Homo sapiens: one gene and its partners. The protein of the gene in region 2 interacts with the protein of the main gene of each other region in a pairwise test. Each region holds a gene or a part of one and is shown on either strand. Other genes may lie near its edges. The genes, in order: DTNB, TXLNB and CAGE1.

Evidence for each region.
Region 1: the proteins of TXLNB (region 2) and DTNB interact in a two-hybrid assay, tested with the Homo sapiens proteins (one large-scale study listed by IntAct).
Region 3: the proteins of TXLNB (region 2) and CAGE1 interact in binary tests that used the Homo sapiens proteins (3 or more experiments, as listed by UniProt).

The regions. Positions count from the first base shown.
Region 1 is NC_000002.12:25,387,061-25,390,720, reverse strand, and holds part of DTNB (dystrobrevin beta), read left to right. Parts: intron 1-2,359; coding exon 2,360-2,519; intron 2,520-3,342; coding exon 3,343-3,432; intron 3,433-3,569; coding exon of another isoform or gene 3,570-3,622; exon of another isoform or gene 3,623-3,660.
Region 2 is NC_000006.12:139,239,965-139,243,624, reverse strand, and holds the end of TXLNB (beta-taxilin), read left to right. Parts: intron 1-310; coding exon 311-1,099; 3' UTR 1,100-3,564; downstream 3,565-3,660. UniProt on the Homo sapiens protein: Promotes motor nerve regeneration. May be involved in intracellular vesicle traffic.
Region 3 is NC_000006.12:7,326,090-7,328,541, forward strand, and holds the end of CAGE1 (cancer-associated gene 1 protein), read right to left. Parts: intron 811-2,452; coding exon 769-810; 3' UTR 570-768; downstream 1-569.

The DNA of each region.
Region 1 (3,660 bases), on a different chromosome or scaffold from region 2:
AATCCTAGCACTTTGGGAGGCCGAGGCGGGTGGATCACCTGAGGTCAGGAGTTTGAAGCCAGCCTGGCCAAGATGGCGAAACCCCATCTCTACTAAAAATATAAGAAAAGCCAGGCATGGTGGCACACACGCACCTGTAATCCCATCTACTTTGGAGGCTGAGGCAGGAGAATTGGTTGAACCCAGGGGACGGAGGTTGCACTGAGCCAAAATCGCACCACTTCACTCCAGCCTGGGTGAAAGAGTGAAACTCCATCTCAAAAAAAAAAAAGAGAAGACGAAAAGAAAAAGAAAAGAAAAAGTTTAAAATTTCAATGAAAGCCAGTTTATCTGTTTGGTTTTGTTTTTACATATCATGGTTTGGGTGTTTTCTTAGAGAAATTTTATAGTTTTAGCCCTTATAGTTACTATGATCCATTTTAGTTTTAGCTCTTATAGTTACTATGATCCATTTTGATTTAGTTCATATTTATTTGTATCATGGAAAGATCTCAGAAAGCATGCTAAGTGATTAAAGCAAATTGCAAAGTGATATGAGCAGTACAATACCATTCATGCAAAATTTAAAAGCGTGAAATACCATCTATTATTCATAGCTATACATGCACATATAGGTTAAAAGTTTCACAGCAGAATTTTGATAGGGGTTGCCTCTGAAGGGAGGAGAGGAAAGAACTGGAACAGGAAAGAACTGGTGGACAAAAATATTGCAAATTTTTCTGCAATATTTTTAGGTTGAAATACATTTGACACAATATGAAGTTACCAATTTGGGGTGGTTAATTATGTTGTACTTTTTAGTTTTCTGTATTTTTTTTAACTTCTCAAAATACACATACACACACACACACACACACACACACACACACACACAAATGATTCAAAGTAAGAACCACAGAAAACAATCCATTTCTGTTGAGTTTGGTGGCCACACGGTTGAAGCACTGCGGTGGGGTGTCGTGCGTCCAGCCTGTCCACCTGTTCAGGGCCAATTCTGTTTGTATATGGGGTTTCTAGCTGAGAAAGCTAGAAGAAGGATAACTGTCTTCATTTGAATTCACTCTCACACTTTGGCTTCTATTTTTTCCAGTTTTGCTTCCACAGAAAACCCTAGTCCACCTTCCACACTCAGTTCCCGTTGTGCTGAAGAGCTACAGAGCCCACATCTCAGTGAGCGGCCCTTGATTAGTTTTCTCCTTTTATTTATTTTATCCCATTGCTCCAAACTTTCTCCACAACTATACCAGGGCCTCCCAAGGAAAGCTTGGTTTCTGTTTACCATGTGTCCTTTCTCACCTCGTCCCCGCGGGGTGGCCCCGGACAGCCTTGCTGTACATGTGCAGTGCATGTGGCATGACTGGCCCCATGGCCCCGCTTGCAGCCTGCAGCCGAGCTCCGCACATGCTCAGAGCATGCCCTGCAGGAAGTGGGGTCACAACCTGCAGAGTGCACACTGCCACCCTTGGAGTCAAGGGGTTGTTCCCATGCCTCCCACTGGCAAGCTGTGTGGCCTGACACAACGTCTCTTTCCATTCTTCTTCTTCTATAAAATGGACATAAAAATATATACCCTGGCTTGGTATGGTGGCTCACACCTGTAATCCTAGCACTTTGGGAGGCGAAGGCGAGCAGATTGCATGAGCTCAGGAGTTAAAGACCAACCTGGACAACGTGTTGAAACCCCGTATCTACTAAAAATACAAAAAATTAGCCCAGCGTGGTGGCGCACACCTGTAGTCCCAGCTACTCGGGAGGCTGAAGCAGGAGAATCTCTTGAACCTGGGAGGCGGAGGTTACAGTGAGCTGAGATCGTGCCACTGCACTCCACCTGGGCAACAAAGCAAGACTCTGTCTCCAAAAAAGATATATACGTATATAAATATATACATACACACACACACACACACACACACACGTATGTCCTTTCCACTCACAGGTTGCCGGCAGCAGCGGGGGGAGGGGTCCAAATGAGAACATGTACATGAATGTGTTTGCAAACAAAATGAAAGCTGTTTGCATGTTACTTCCTGCCCTGCAAGCCAAGCCCTTCTAGAGCCCTGGCCCAGTCACGCAGCTCACTCTGTCTCCACCACTCTGTGCCAGCCTCTTCTTTCCCTCCCATTCTTGGTCTTGTTCTTAGGATGTTCTCTCTCTCTGCCCTGCACGCCCCCTTCCTTTTTTCCTTTTCTTCCTCTCTCCAGTCTTGGAAGCAGCCTAACTCCTTCCTTTCAAGTATGATCTTGTACCACTGAACTGAGGCCCACTGGCTGGCTCTGGTTGATGGAGAAAAAGTACTTTCTTCCTTCCTCAAAGAGGTCAGGTACTTGAGATAACGTATTTTCTGTCTTTGAATCTCCAGGCTCAGGCCACAGGGTCACCACATACATCGCCCACCCATGGAGGCGGCCGGCCAATGCCCATGCCAGTGCGCTCCACGTCTGCCGGCTCCACCCCCACCCACTGTCCGCAGGACTCGCTGAGCGGAGTCGGGGGAGACGTGCAGGAGGCCTTCGCACAAGGTGAGTTTCTGGAGCAGAGTTCAGCGGGGAGCTGAAGGGATGTGCAAACACGGACAAGATTCCTGCTGAGGTTTTTTCCATTTCTGTTTTGTGCTCTTTGCTTGGAATGATCAGATTTTGACAGACAGTGTAAATAAGTCAGGTGCTGGCCCCTTCTCATGAGACGGGCTGGTCTCCAGCGGGAGGGCTGCAGGCTTCCTATGTGTGCCAAGAACAGGCCTCCTGGGGTTCTCTGCCCTTTTTTCTGGATTATTGGAAGTGCTTTGTCCTTTGGGCTTTGTCTCCTCCAGAGGAATTGGATGGAATAATTCCCTGGCCTAGAAGGGACTGTAACAGGCACTGTAACTGGGACCGTGCTGAAAGCACAGTATGCACGCCATTGTCACAGTCATCGGGGGAGCTGGTGACCAGCAGTATTAAGTAGTTGGGTGGGGATTCAGAGGGAAGTCCTGCTGGGGCTGGAGGTGAGAAGGGGAGGTGGTAGTGGTGGTTGTGGAGAGTACAGCCCCACCCCCACAAGGCTGAGGAAGACCTCGGTGGAATGCTTATTCTGGAACCCAGCTCTGGATTGTGTGGTGGCGGCAAAGCGTGGAGTTGACAGGATGCTGCTCCCTAGGTAGAGAGGGCAGAGGGAGAGGGACCAGTGGGCTGGTGCCTCCTGCCCCCGGTGTGCCTGGGAATGGGTGGAGCTGCTGTGGCCCCATCTCCCCTTAGGTGTTCCACACCTGTGTTCTCGGGCCTGGCAGAACTGAGGCATTTGCTCAGCCGTCTCTTCTCCACGCTCACCCACCCTGGCATCCCCATCTGCTCTGCCTCTCCTCAGGTACGAGGAGAAACCTCCGCAATGACCTGCTGGTGGCAGCTGACTCCATCACCAACACCATGTCATCCCTGGTGAAGGAGCTCCATTCAGGTGAAACCCAGAGCTCCCAGCCAGCTTCCTGGCCTCCCCTGCCTTGCCCGCGCCCTTCTCACTTCCTTGCCAGCACCGGCAGAACCTCACCACCCAGCTTGCACCACCCCATTTCATCACCTAACTTTGCCTTCTAGGAACACACTGGATGTCTCCACCCAGAGAGCCTCTGTCACACAGGATCGCGTAGGGGCGGTTTCACATTCAGGCCTATCTCAGGAGTGCATC
Region 2 (3,660 bases):
CATCCATAAGATTTGAGAGGCTATGGACCAAAGCAGAAGGAAGCCTGACCATCTTTCTTTCCCAATGAACAGGGTATGGTGATTAAAGAATCTACCAGTCTAGTACACAATGCCAAAAAAAAAAAAAAAAAAGGAAAGTGATGTCCATGACCAAGCATCTGTTCAGCCCCTACTCTGTAGCCAGGTCCCAGAGCCTAGTAGACAAATTCTGGGACAAATAGTTTTGCTTGTTTCCAGAAAGCATCCTGGACATTTTGCTTATCATGTCATTTCATCTGTGTGTGTATGTGCGTGTGTTTTCACATCACAGAAAGCACTGAGAGCTAAAGAATATGAGTGCTTTGTGATGAAAATCGGGAGGCTAGAGAACCTCTGCCGTGCTTTACAAGAAGAGAGAAACGAACTCCACAAAAAAATCAGAGACGCAGAAATATCTGAAAAGGATGACCAAAGTCAGCACAACTCCGATGAAGAGCCAGAGTCAAACGTCTCTGTGGATCAAGAGATTGACGCAGAGGAGGTTAATAGTGTCCAAACCGCCGTGAAAAATCTGGCCACAGCCTTCATGATAATTCATCATCCAGAGTCAACCCCGCACCAGTCCAAAGAAACCCAACCCGAAATAGGCAGTTCTCAGGAGAGTGCTGACGCCGCTCTCAAGGAGCCAGAGCAACCCCCTCTGATCCCTTCACGGGATTCAGAGAGTCCCCTGCCTCCCCTAACTCCTCAGGCTGAAGCCGAAGGAGGCAGTGATGCTGAACCTCCCTCCAAGGCCAGTAATTCTCCTGCCGGGTTGGGAGCAGAAACCCAATGCGAGGGTCTCCCTGTTGGAGCACAGGCTGATCAGGCGTCCTGGAAGCCAGAGGCAGAAGCTTCCGGTCAGGCCCCACAGGCTCCCACCGAGGCCTCCCTACAGAAGATGGAGGCAGATGTGCCTGCTCCAGCATGCGCAGCAGAAGAGCACGTTGCAGCCATGGTGCCTGCATGCGAGCCCAGTAGGCAGCCCCCACGAGCAGCAGCAGAGGAGCTGCCAGTAGGGGCCTCAGCTGGGCCCCAGCCGCGCAACGTGGCTGACACCAATCTGGAAGGCGTCGACTAAGCCTCACCGTGCCTTCAGAGGCTTCTTCCTGCCTCTTTGCATATTCAGCATAACAGCTTGTCTTCCGAAAAAGGCATTAAGGGCTAGAGATGTCAAATGGAAGAGACTTAGGATCAAGACATTTTTTAATGTTAGGCAGAACACATTCATTCAGACTTTGCTATTTGTTGTCAATTTATAGCTGATTTGAAGGTTTTCTATTTAACACTGGTTGACAGTATAATTTTCCCAAAGGGCAACAAAACATACAGATAGCAAATTTATATTCCTTTTCTGTTAAGATAATACTTAAATTTGTTAATCACCAGTAAGATTTGATGTTTAAAGACTTCCACTGCAATATATAAATACTGAAAATGTGATGTTCTGCTTATTTGGATATATAGTTTAACAAGTTCCATAGTAATTTATGGATGCCCAGGTTACATTTAAACTATACATATACATAATATATACATACGTGTGTACTTATTATATGTATATATACACGTATGTATAGATGTGTGAATATTTGTTTATATACATATATGCACGTATCTATATGTATATATAAATGCATTATTACACATACATTTCTCTCACCCCTTAATGCATTTTTCTCAATGCAGAATATTTAGATGCTAATCAAAAAAATGATCTCTTACTTGCACTTGAGACTATGGTTGACTAATGCTCTATAAATCCGAAGAGAGTTCGGACTATAAGTATTTAGGCTATCATTATGTTGGGCAAAAATAAGTAACCCAATGGTAGATAAATGAATTCAACCAGTTGATCAAATGGCAGAAAAGCAGTTAGACTACAATCTGTGCAGACAGCATGGACACAAAGATGACCACAAGGGGCCCAAAACAGAAAAGAGAAACACAAGCTCACCTCTTGGAGCTGCTTCTCCTACACTTCTCAGCCCATTGCTTTGCCACCCCCTCATGTGCCAGGGCATCCCATTCCAGGCTTCCTGCAAGGAAACGGTTGGAAGTGGGAAAGGGGAGCTAGGGATTGAGGGGTTAAGGGACCTCACACTAAGAAGGGGCTGTGCTTTGATCCCCTGCCTCTTGCACTACCAATGTCTCAAGACATAATATTCATCTCTTGCTGTCAGACCCATTCTATATTCTAAAAGCTTCTGCTCCTTCCTTCCCAATTTCTCCTTTGTAGCAGGAAATTACACCCAGCCCTCATCTCAATTAATGCTAAATAAAGCTATTGTTTTTCCAAAACACAAATCTACACTGGGTCTCAATATCAGTGATGAGGCTTACAAACCAACACGTTTTCTGCCATGAGGATTTCTCTTTAGGCCAGAAGTACAAAACAAAAAAACCAATGGATTTTAACCAAAATGATTTGAAATATAGGTGAGGATTCAGGAGAAGGCAAAAGCTAGAAACACTTGGGGTTGTCAACATGAGTATTACATTAACATTGCTTGATGAGAACCTCTAATGATACTGACAACATAAATTACCTAGGGTAAAGGATAGCTGCAACAATGAAACAGGAAAGAAGAGAGGGAGAGAGAGGAAAGGGAAGGAAGAAAGGAAGGAGGGAGAAGGGAAGAAAGAAACAATGTCTAACCCAACCCTATCTTGAAAGTTGAACTCAAGTAGAAAAATGGATAGAAACAAAATTCTCTAGTACTCATCCAGGAAACCATTCTTCAATGTTGCATGTGGCTGTTTGCCAAGGCACACAAAGTGCTTGTAGGCAGCAACCATATGCTACAAGAATTGTAAACTGCATACAGTTTGTTTGAAGTAGACAGTGAGGATAATAACAAAGTTGCTAGGCAGGAAAAAAAATCAGGAAAAAAGCTTGTCGCTATTTGAGAATCTGTATATTTTTAAAGGCTTAAAATATTATAACCACAGGGTATCCAGCCAAATTCAACATTACTGCAAGTCTTAGAGATTTAAACATTCATTTGATTCAGAGCTAAATATTCACCATAATCCAGGAGGGTCTCCTTCCCCACTGCAGAGGCAGAACGTCCAAGAATGGAGTAAGATTAGTCATAGTAAAGTCTCAGTCTGAATATTTAGCAAGAGAAACAGGCAGCAGAGGAACCCAAAGGCAGTAAATCAAATATTCTAAAACCCAAAGTTCATTATTTTCATCCAAAAGACTTTCACAGAAACACATTACTCACAGCCATGTATATCTTGGACAGAGTTTCAGATGGAATGACTTGTCTGAAATTTGTAAAGCTTAATATAGGTTTTGGGGGAATTATTTTAATATTCAAAGAATGTTTTATTATAGTCCTTTGTGTTAAAATTTAGCCTTACTAATTATAACAATAACTCATAAAGTTCTAAATTCAGAAGGAATGTCTGTTCTTTATCAAGTGTATGTAACTATTTTTTAGAAATGCCATCTACTTTCTAGAAACACTAAAGTTATTGTTTTCTAAGTTAAATAACTATAATTTATATATCTATTAAAAAGGTACTTCTCTTCCCAAATTCTCTAGTACTCATTTTATTTTTTTAACTTTGACTTATTTTATTTTTGTTTTTATTACTTCTATGTTTCGACAATACCTAATGAAAATTATGGTT
Region 3 (2,452 bases), about 130 Mb from region 2:
ATGAGCTCTTCCTATGTTGCCCAGGCTCTTTATTTATTTATTTATTTTATTTGAGACAGAGTCTTGCTCTGTCGCCCAGGCTGGAGTGCAGTGGCACGATCTGGGCTCACTGCAAGCTCCGCCTCCCGGGTTCACACCATTCTCCTGCCTCAGCCTCCCGAGTAGCTGGGACTACAGGTGCCCCCGCCACCACACCTGGCTAAGTTTTTGTATTTTTAGTAGAGACGGGGTTTCACCATGTTAGCCAGGATGGTCTCGATCTCCTGACCTCATGATCCACCCGCCTCGGCCTCCCAAACTGCTGGGATTACAGGCATGAGCCACCGCGCCTGGCCACCCAGGCTCTTTTATCTGCGTTATAATTCCAAAGGATTTCAGAGTTGGTGTCTTTTAAAATTTGGTTGGTATTATGAAGAATCTGCCTGCCTGGACAGAAAAAGGATGTCCTGCAGAGGAAATAAAAAGTTGAAGTGAAATCCATGACTATTTTTGTGCATCATTAAAGGCCTGATAATATGGGAGTGGTATTCTGTGAGAATATTTGGTCAAAAAACCACTGTATTCTTCTGTTTATGTTAAATAGAATATATTTGATTATTCACAGGAAGAAATTAGAAGAAAAGTAATCACATCTTTGGAATGTAAGACTTTACCCTTTATACAGATTTTAATATATCATCTGCATGGATTGATTTGGCTAGCATATGTAGTAATGACTCTTCCTGGAGTGGTTGACAAAAATGATTACTGTTTAATCTTCAGGCTTGTTTAATCTAAATCATTTCTATTTTCTTTAAAAAGAGCTGGCATCTAAAAATGAAAGGAAAAATGTTTCGTAAGTTTTGGGGAAAGACTAACATTCAGTGACAGAACCCCTAAACAGCCAATTTTTTATTACATATGGAAAAGGGGTGCAAAGTAAGCCTATAGATAGATGAATTCCACAGATAATACCAACACTATATTTTGTTTGTTTGTTTTGAGACAGAGTCTCACTCTGTTACCCAGGCTGCAGTGCAGTGGTACAATCTCGGCTCACTGCAAGCTCTGCCTCCCAGGTTCAAGCGATTCTCCTGCCTCTGCCTCCCAAGTAGCTGGGATTATAGACACTCAACACCATGCCCGGCTATTTTTTGTATTTTCAGTAGAGACGGGGTTTCACCATGATGGCCAGGCTAGTCTCGAACCCCTGACCTCAAGTGATCTGTCCACCTCAGCCTCCCAAAGTGCTAGGATTATATTTTTGATAGAGATGGGGTTTTGCCATGTTGTCCAGGCTGGTCTCGAACTCCTGACCTCAAGTGATCCACCTGCCTCAGCTGTGAGCTCAGGTGTGAGCCACCACACCTGGCCCCCAACACTATATTTTAACTGATATTTTTGTTTGTTTGTTTCAACCTTTTTCCCACTAAGGAACACCATGAAGAACAATGTGGATTGAGTTTCATCTTCCTTGGTTTGGTTGGCAATTGACAGATGTAGAAAAAGGAATAGAAGCAAGAATCTGAATAATCCAAAAGTGATTTAGCAGCATGGCATAGTTAAAAATTGATAGTATTGGCTGAGCGCGGTGGCTCACGCCTGTAATCCCAGCACTTTGGGAGGCTGAGGCAGGCGGACCACCTGAGGTCAGGAGTTTGAGACCAGCCTGACCAACATGGAGAAACCCCGTCTCTACTAAAAATACAAAATTAGCTAGGCGTGGTGGTACCTGCCTGTAACCCCAGCTACTCGGGAGGCTGAGGCAGGAGAATCACTTGAACCCCGGAAGTGGAGGTTGCAGTGAGCCGAGATTGCGCCATTGCACTCCAGCCTGGGCAACAAGAGTGAAACTCCGTCTAAAAAATAAATAAATAAATAAATAAATAAATAACCATTGACAGTATTAAGGCACCCTCTTAGTTCAACTATGAGAAAAGCTGGGTCTCAATGGCAGCATATGGAGGCATGCCCTATTGAGTGTCCCCTCATCCCCAAAGCTATGTTACAAATAGGCCACGGCATTTATGAACATACCCATGTCCTGGAATGGGACAGAGGTGGCAGCAGCTGTGTCTGCTGTTTGGGATCACTCCAGCAAGTGTAGCATTGGTCCTGGGTCCCAAGTCTAACATTCACTCCTATTTAGTACCTTTTATGAGATAGGTACTTGAGGATATCAAAATGAATATGAGACAATTCCTGTACTCAAAGAGTTCTAGTCAAGTCAAAGGACATGCAAGCAGAGAACTGTAATGCTGTGTCATAGGTGCTATTACGTCAAAGGGTATAGTGTGAGCACATGGGAGGAAGCAAGTCAGTTCCATTTGGGAGACAGAGCAGGAAAAGCTTCAGAGAGGAGGCAGAGCTTGAGCTGACAGGCGTTTGTGAGGTGGGAACTGAGTAACTGAGAGAAAGAGTTGGGGAAGAACATACCAAGTAGGAGAAGCTGCATGAGCAATAACAGGAAAGC